Homo sapiens: one gene and its partner. The protein of the gene in region 2 interacts with the protein of the main gene of each other region in a biochemical or structural test. Each region holds a gene or a part of one and is shown on either strand. Other genes may lie near its edges.

Evidence for each region.
Region 1: the proteins of GID4 (region 2) and MAEA form a complex in vitro, tested with the Homo sapiens proteins (one study listed by BioGRID).

Annotation. Positions count from the first base shown.
Region 1 is NC_000004.12:1,292,685-1,296,599, reverse strand, and holds part of MAEA (E3 ubiquitin-protein transferase MAEA), read right to left. Parts: intron 1-3,915.
Region 2 is NC_000017.11:18,049,391-18,053,305, forward strand, and holds part of GID4 (glucose-induced degradation protein 4 homolog), read left to right. Parts: intron 1-3,915.

The DNA of each region.
Region 1 (3,915 bases), on a different chromosome or scaffold from region 2:
CACCAGGGAGCTGCACAGCCAATGGGAAAACCGACCAACAGAGAGAGAACCAAGTGCAGGAGCAGCCACAAGGCAAAGGGCACAGCACAGGTGAGGGGGGCACAGCGCAAGTGAGGGAGGCACAGGCACGGGTGAGGGGGGCACAGGCACGGGTGAGGAACGGCACAGGCATGGGTGAGGGGTACAGGTGAGGAATGGCATGGGTGACGGCTGCACAGGCACAGGTGAGGGGGGCACAGGTGCGGGTGGGGGGGCACAGGTGAGGGTAGCATAGGTGAGGTGCAGATGTAGGTGGGGGGCGCACGTGAAGGTGGTGCAGGAGCAGGTGAGGGAGGAGCAGGTGAGGGAGGAGCAGGTGAGGGGGGCACAGGCACAGGTGGGGGGCACAGGTGAGGGCAGCACAGGTGAGGGCAGTGCAGACGTGGGTGAGGGGGGCACAGGTGCGGGTGGGGGGGCACAGGTGAGGGTAGCATAGGTGAGGTGCAGATGTAGGTGGGGGGCGCACGTGAAGGTGGTGCAGGAGCAGGTGAGGGAGGAGCAGGTGAGGGAGGAGCAGGTGAGGGGGGCACAGGCACAGGTGGGGGGCACAGGTGAGGGCAGCACAGGTGAGGGCAGTGCAGACGTGGGTGAGGGGGGCACAGGTGCGGGCGAGGGTGGCACAGGTGTGGGTGAGGGGGTGCAGGTGAAGGCAGCACAGGTGAGGGCGGTGCAGACACAGGTGAAGGGGCAAAGGCGCAGGTGTGGTGGGCACCGGCATGGGTGAGGAGGGCACAGGCGTGGGTGAGGGGGCACAGGCGCTGGGGAGGGGGGCACAGGCGCGGGTGAGGGGGGCAGAGGCACGGGTGAGGGGGCACAGGCGCGGGTGAGGGGGTACAGGAGCGGGTGAGGGGGGTACAGGTGTGGGTGAGGGGGTATAGGAGCGGGTGAGGGGGTACAGGAGCGGGTGAGGGGGGTACAGGTACGGGTGATGGGGCTCATCCACCACGGGTGTGGGAGCAGGTGCAGGTCAGGCAGGGTCTGCGTGACAGGCATGGGCGAGCATGAAGTAGGAGGGAAAGTCTGAGAGAAGGACAGGTATGAAAGGCTCGCCTGGGAGGAGAGGAAGGAGGCTGCTCTGGGCCCCTCCCTCGAGTGGGGCAGCACTCAGGGTCCCGGTCCGGGTCCACAGTCAGCCATCAGCACAGCAGGTGCTTTCTTCTGCTCAGCCACATTCAGCTCAACAGTCACTAAATGTGGTATTAACACAGTGAATAATTCTTTTTGTTCAGGTTTTCAAAATAATGGCCCCTAGCTATAACGATTCTGAAATAACAGACCTAAAAATCATCAGCAGTTACCCCGGCAGGAAGTGTGCTTTGCGATGCCTGGGTCAGCACCCAGACATCCCCACTCGGCCTGAAGCCCCCAGAGGGTGGGGCTCGCAGCACAGCCTCTCTGCAGACGGGGCAGTCACATGCTACAGGCACCGGCCGGCCTTGTCTTCATTCTGGTGCCAATGTGTCTCCTTGGGCTTGCTTCCCATTCTGCTGACCCCTGTACCCACAGACCGAGTCACTGCCCAGCACCCAGTCTCACTGTGAGACCCTCCCTGCACAGCTCTGGGACACCCCCAGCCACATCACCCCAATGGTGCTGTGTGCCTGTGTGCCTACTGGGGTGAGAGCCGGCCAGGACTTCAACACGGTCCACAGAGCCTCACCCCAAAACTTAGCTCCGCCAACCAGCTCACAATATCGCATTCACTGGAGGAAGCTCATCCCCACCCCCGCCCCTGCCCCTGCCCCTGCCCCCGGCCCCACCCCCGTCCCCTGCCACTGTCCAACATCACCTCAACCTCATCAGCGTCTTTAAAGGATCTGAGATGTCTGTGTGTGCTTGTGCTGATGCCTCCCTCCCACCGGAGCGTAGACAGGGGCCTCACTTGTCTCCCCATCATGCTAGCCCAGGGCCTGACTGTGCAGGGCCTGACCGTACCTGGCCGATGGAGGCTCTCAGACCACTGCTGCGGAGGGGGGTATGGGAGAAGCTAAGTGCACCTGCAGCCCTGCTCTGCAGCCCGGCGGCGGTGCCTTGCTTAGGTCCCAGGGCCGCTCCAGGCCTCACGTCAGTACTGCCTCCAACCTAGCCCAGCCATTACGGTGAATCAGGCATTAAAAAGCACTTTCTTGACTTGAAATGTGTTAAAAAAATAATACTTAAAAAAACAAAAACAAAACCAACCCCCCAGCTAGCAGTGAATTCAAGTCTACATCCTTATCTCAGCCTTGCCCAACCAGCTGGAAAGGCCCAGGCCTGGGAGGGAAGACCTGTGCCAGCGCGGAGGCCGCGGAAGCCAGCCCAGGGCCAAACCACCAGCAAACGGTGGGAGAGGCGAGGGGAGTGGAGCTGGGAGCCACAAAGGGCAGACCATGGCTCTTCTGGGCAGAAGGAATTTCCACTGTGCTCTAGAGACCGGGCGGATTCTGGAGGGCTGTGACGTTACTGCAGATAAAGTACATCGAAAAAGCCGGCCACAGAAGAGGTGGAGACCCGGCCTAAGACTCCTCAGACACGGCATCACCAGGGTCCAACCCAATGTGTGTGTCAGTAAGTCAAACGCTTCGTGGTTGCCTGTGTTTCTCACACTCGAGAACACATGATCCTCCCAAATCCAGCCAAGATGGAGTGAAGAAAACTACAAAAGGCGCAGGAGCAGTTACAACTTCAGCACACAGCTGGCACCCGAACTCCCTACCACAGGCACAGACCCAGGCTGTGAGGCATCAGGGCCATGCCTGGGCAACCAGACTGTCATCAAACCAAAGGCAGAACATGCAAATCTTCCTGTAGAGAATTCAGACACCTGAGAATGCAACCACAAGCCCGGTGTTTCTCAGCCTGTCCTCTGGGGAGAGGACAGCATCACCACCTTGGGTGTGAGAGGACTCACTGGAGCTGGGAACCCTTGCTGGGGCTCCAGGAGAGGAGAGGTGGGCCCAGGTGGGGTTCACAGAGAGGAGCCAGGTCCAGACCAGGGTCTCCAGGTGATGAACACCACTTCCCGCCCTGGGCTGTGCAGACACCCATGTGAAATTCTCTAAACTATTATTTTTCTTCGGCTATCTGAAGGGAAATAGTAGGAGTAAATACACCAAAATGTTAATGAAGTTCTCTCTGTGCAGCAGGGTAACTTGAAGAAAAAACAAATTACTTTTATTTATTTATTATTTGAGACAGGGTCTCACTCTGTCACCCAGGCTGGAGGGCAGTGGTGCAATCTCGGTTCACCACAGCCTGGATCTCCTGGCTCAAGTGATCCTCTCGCCTCAGCCTCCCAATTAGCTGGGACTACAGGCGCACACCACCGCACCCAACTCATCAAATTACTTTTATAATCAGAAAAAAAAAAACCTTTTACAAAATAATGAAAGCAAGGGCTTCCAATTCAAGATGGTGAACTATGCATGTTGAATTGAAAGATGGTGAATTCCTGAGGTCAGGAGTTCAAGACCAGCTGGACAACATGGAGAAACCACGTCTCTACTAAAAAATACAAAAAATTAGCTGGGCATGGTGGCGGGTGCCTGTAATCTCAGCTACTCGGGAGGCTGAGGTAGGAGAATTGCTTGAATCTGGGAGGCAGAGGTTGCAGTGAGCTGAGATTGTGCCACCGCGCTCCAGCCTGGGCAACAGAGTGAGACTCCGTCTCAAAAAAGAAAAAAAAAAAAAAAAAAGATGGTGAGTTATTCATCTTTCCCCTCCCCCACAAGGCATTACCCACCACCCTACACCGGACGGCGTTCACAGCATTTGACAGCAAAAAGACACAGCCACAGCCAGGACGCAAGGCTGAGTCCTCATGAGCCACACCTCCGTTTGGTAAGAGGAAGAAACAAGTCCCTTAAAGCAGGATCCAGCCCAGCAATTCTCAGGGGT
Region 2 (3,915 bases):
CCTCTTAGCTACCTCACATTCACAAACAAGCACAGCTTTTTTGTTTGTTTGTTTTAATTTTTATTTTAGGCTTGGGTGTACATGCGCAGGTTTGATCTATAGATAAACTTATGTCACGGTTTACCTATGTAACTGTTGTGGAGATTATTTTGTCACCCAGGTATTAAGCCTAGTACTGAATAGTTATTTCTTCTGCTCCTCTCCCTTCTCCTACCCTCTACCCTCAAGTAGGCCCCATTGTCTGTTCTTCCCTTCTTTTTTTTTTTGAGATGAAGTCTCGCTCTGTTGCCCAGGCTTGAGTGCAGTGGTGCAATATCTGCTCACTGCAACCTCTGCCTCCCAGGTTCAAGCAGTTCTCCTGCTCAGCTTCCCAGGTAGCATGTACCACCACACCAGGCTAAATTTTTTTTTGTACTTTTGGTAGAGATGGGGTTTCACCATGTTGGCTAGGCTGGTCTTGAACTCTTGACCTCAGGTGATTTGCCTGCCTCAGCCTCCCAAAGTGCTGGGATTACAGGCTTGAGCCTATTGTTTCCTTCTTTGAGCCCATGAGTTCTCATCATTTAGCTCCTACTTATAAGGGCAGTATTTGGTTTTCTGTTCCTGCATTAGTTTGCTAAGGATAACGGCCTCTAGCTCTACCCGTGTTCACGCAAAAGACATGATCTCATTTCTTTTTATGGCTTCATAGTATTCCTTGGTGTATATATACCACGTTTTCTTTATCCAATCTGTCATTGATGGGCATTTAGGTTGACCCACTTTTTACTATTGTGAATAGTGCTACAGTGAACATTTGCATGCATGTATCTTTATAGTAGAATGATTTATACTCCTCTGGGTGTATACCCAATAATGGGATTGCTGGGTCGAATGATAGTTCTGTTTTTAACTCTTTGAGGAATTGCCACATTGCAAAACGGAGCTTTAAAGTTTGTTTTCATGCCTTCTGGAAGTGAAATTCTAGAAATGTAAAGAATAAATATGAAATAACATTCTTTTTGCACTTTTGAGCCATCCGTCAGTCAAGAGAGGCGACCTTTCCGGGGAACCCAGCAGCTTTCAGGGGTTACCTGGGAGCCCAGCCTTTGGGGGCCATGGGCAGGCCCCCCACTTACTCATTACTTGGGTTTGGAAGGGTTGGAAGCTCCAGCTGAAGTTGTGCTAGACTTGTGCTTAACTAGGGAGACAGGTCACACCTACCAAAACTCACAAAAACAAAAGTGCCAGTTTTTGTCAGAGAATGAGATTCCTGTATGTTCCAGAAGTTCCTGTTGACTTATTGGCCAATTGAATGTTAATCCTCCAGAAGACAGGTCTACATGGAAAGTCGTGGTACCTATCACCACACAGTTTTGGGTGAGCCTGGAATCAGTGGGAGGATTAGTTGGGGGACTTAAATGTCTGACAACAGCCAGACCCACCAAGGGATGCCCACTCCTGCTTTTGCTGCCTCTGTTATTCATTTCTCGATATCCTTTCTTCTGACATGGTTTTTCGTCCGCTCTATAAATTACCCCTCATTGGGCTGTAATAAAGTGCTTGAATTTCCTGTTCCTGCTCTGAGAATATTTTATCTTTTCAGTGACTTCTGTACACACTGAATCTCATTTATTAGGTATTTATTTTATTTAATTCTCAAAGTTTGAGGGTACCCTGTAGTTACCCTGATATACTGCCTAAAGTATGTTTACAAAGAAGTCAATGCAGAATTATTCATTAAGAAAACTAGTGATTTAAACCATAAGTGTTTTAATCATATTAGGACCTCCTCCCCACCCCTCCCTTTTTTAAAAATAGAGACCGGGTCTTACTATGTTGCCCAAGCTGATCTTGATCTCCTAGGCTCAAGTGATCCTCCTGTCTTGGCCCCCTAGAGTGCTGGCATTACAGGTGTGAGCCACCAGGCTTGGCCTTGTATTAAAACCTCTTTATCATTTCATCCTATCCCTTTCAAGGAAGTTCAGAAAAAAGATTAAAGCTTGAAACTCGGAAAAATAATATAAACAGTTTGTAGTTGGCTGATGCCTGTAATCCCAGCACTTTGGGAGGCCGAGGCAGGTGGATCACGAGGTTAGGAGTTCAAGACCAGCCTGGCCAAGATGGTGAAACCCGTCTCTACTGAAAATACAAAAATTAGCCACACGTGGTGGTGGATACCTGTAATCCCAGCTACTCGGGAGGCTGAGACAGAGAATTGCTTGAACCCGGGAGGCGGAGGTTGCAGTGAGCCAAGGTTGTACCACTGCACACCAGCCTGGGCGACAGAGCGAGACTCCATCTCAAAAAAAAAAAAAATAGCTTCTAGTTTAAAATCTCAAATGCAGGTGCTGATTTATTGAGAACTTTTTTCCTTAGTAGTCTTTCCTAGAACAGATTATAATTAAAAGTTAGTTTATACCGGCTGGGTGCGGTGGCTCACGCCTGTAATCCCAGCACTTTGGGAGGCCGAGGCGGGTGGATCATGAGGTCAGGAGATCAAGACCGTCCTGGCTAACACCATGAAACCCTGTCTCTACTAAAAATACAAAAAATTAGACAGGCGTGGTGGCATGCATCTGTAATCCCAGCTACTTGGGAGGCTGAGGCAGGAGAATCACCTGAACCCGGGAGGCAGAGGTTGCAGTGAGCCGAGATCGTGCCACTGCATTCCGGTCTGGGCGACAGAGCAAGACTCTGTCCCTCCCCCCAAAAAAAAAAAAAAAAGTTAGCTTATACCTTAAAAATTAGGTTTACATTTAGGAAAATTTCTCCTCTCTCATTTTTTCAGTCTATGTATTTAAATATTTATGTGAAGAATCCAGCAACAGTGTTAGGATAGGGGGGTTGTGGGTTTGGGGCAGTATTAGATTTATCATATTTTAAGTTCACTGTTAAGGAAACAGATCCCCTCCATGGTGTCATCCTAAAGCAGGCCTCCTGAGCCACCTGCAGCGGTGGTGACGTTCTGTTTCCTGGGAGCCTCTGCACCAGTGGCTTTTACTGTGGCAGCCTCTCTCAGGAAGGTCCTACACTACATGCAGGCCAGGTTGGTAGATGTGGCAAAGCCATCAGAATGAGGTTTTTGATGCAGAATAAGAGGGGCTTACATCTGATCTGAAGGAAAAACGTGGGCCTTCTGCAGTCCTTGATGTTAGGACTGTAATCTGTGGTTTTCCAGGCCAGTGACTCTCATAACCATGCTCCTGGCAGACACCAGGGGCTTGGCAAGGTAGCCTGAGAGGTGGGTGCTTGGTTGGTTTCTACAAATGCAGAGAAATGTAGACTTTTTACGGTGTTAACTTTTTGTCTTATTAATCTTTTTTAAAATCATTGGTGCCTACTTATTAACACATGAACAAAGAGCAATTAACAAAGCACCCAAGCCAGCACATGGCTTCTTGCTTACGTTTTCCACGGTGTGGTTTTTACATTCAGACATGATTTACATATGTTTTTCCTCATATAAATTGTTTTTAGTTCATATGTTTTTCCTCATATAAGTTGTTCTTAGTTCATGTGACAGAATTAAACGTATCCCTATGTATCAAGGTATTCTAAGACTACCTTCAGGGACCATTTGTATAGTTCATTACTAGAAGTTTCTCTGAACATGTAGAACACTGAAAAAAGTATTTACTTTTTTTTTTTTTTTTTTTTTTTGAGACAGAGTTTCACTCTTATTGCCCAGGCTGGAGTGCAATGGCGTGATCTCGGCTTACTGCAAACTCCGCCTCCAGGTTCAAGCAATCTCCTGCCTCAGCCTCCCGAGTAGGTGGGATTACAGGCATGCGCCACCACGCCCGGCTAATTTTGTATTTTTAGTAGAGATGAGGTTTCTCCATGTTGGTCAGGTTGGTCTTGAACTCCTGACCTCAGGTGATCCTCCCACCTCGGCCTCCCAAAGTGCTGGGATTACAGGCGTGAGCCACCATG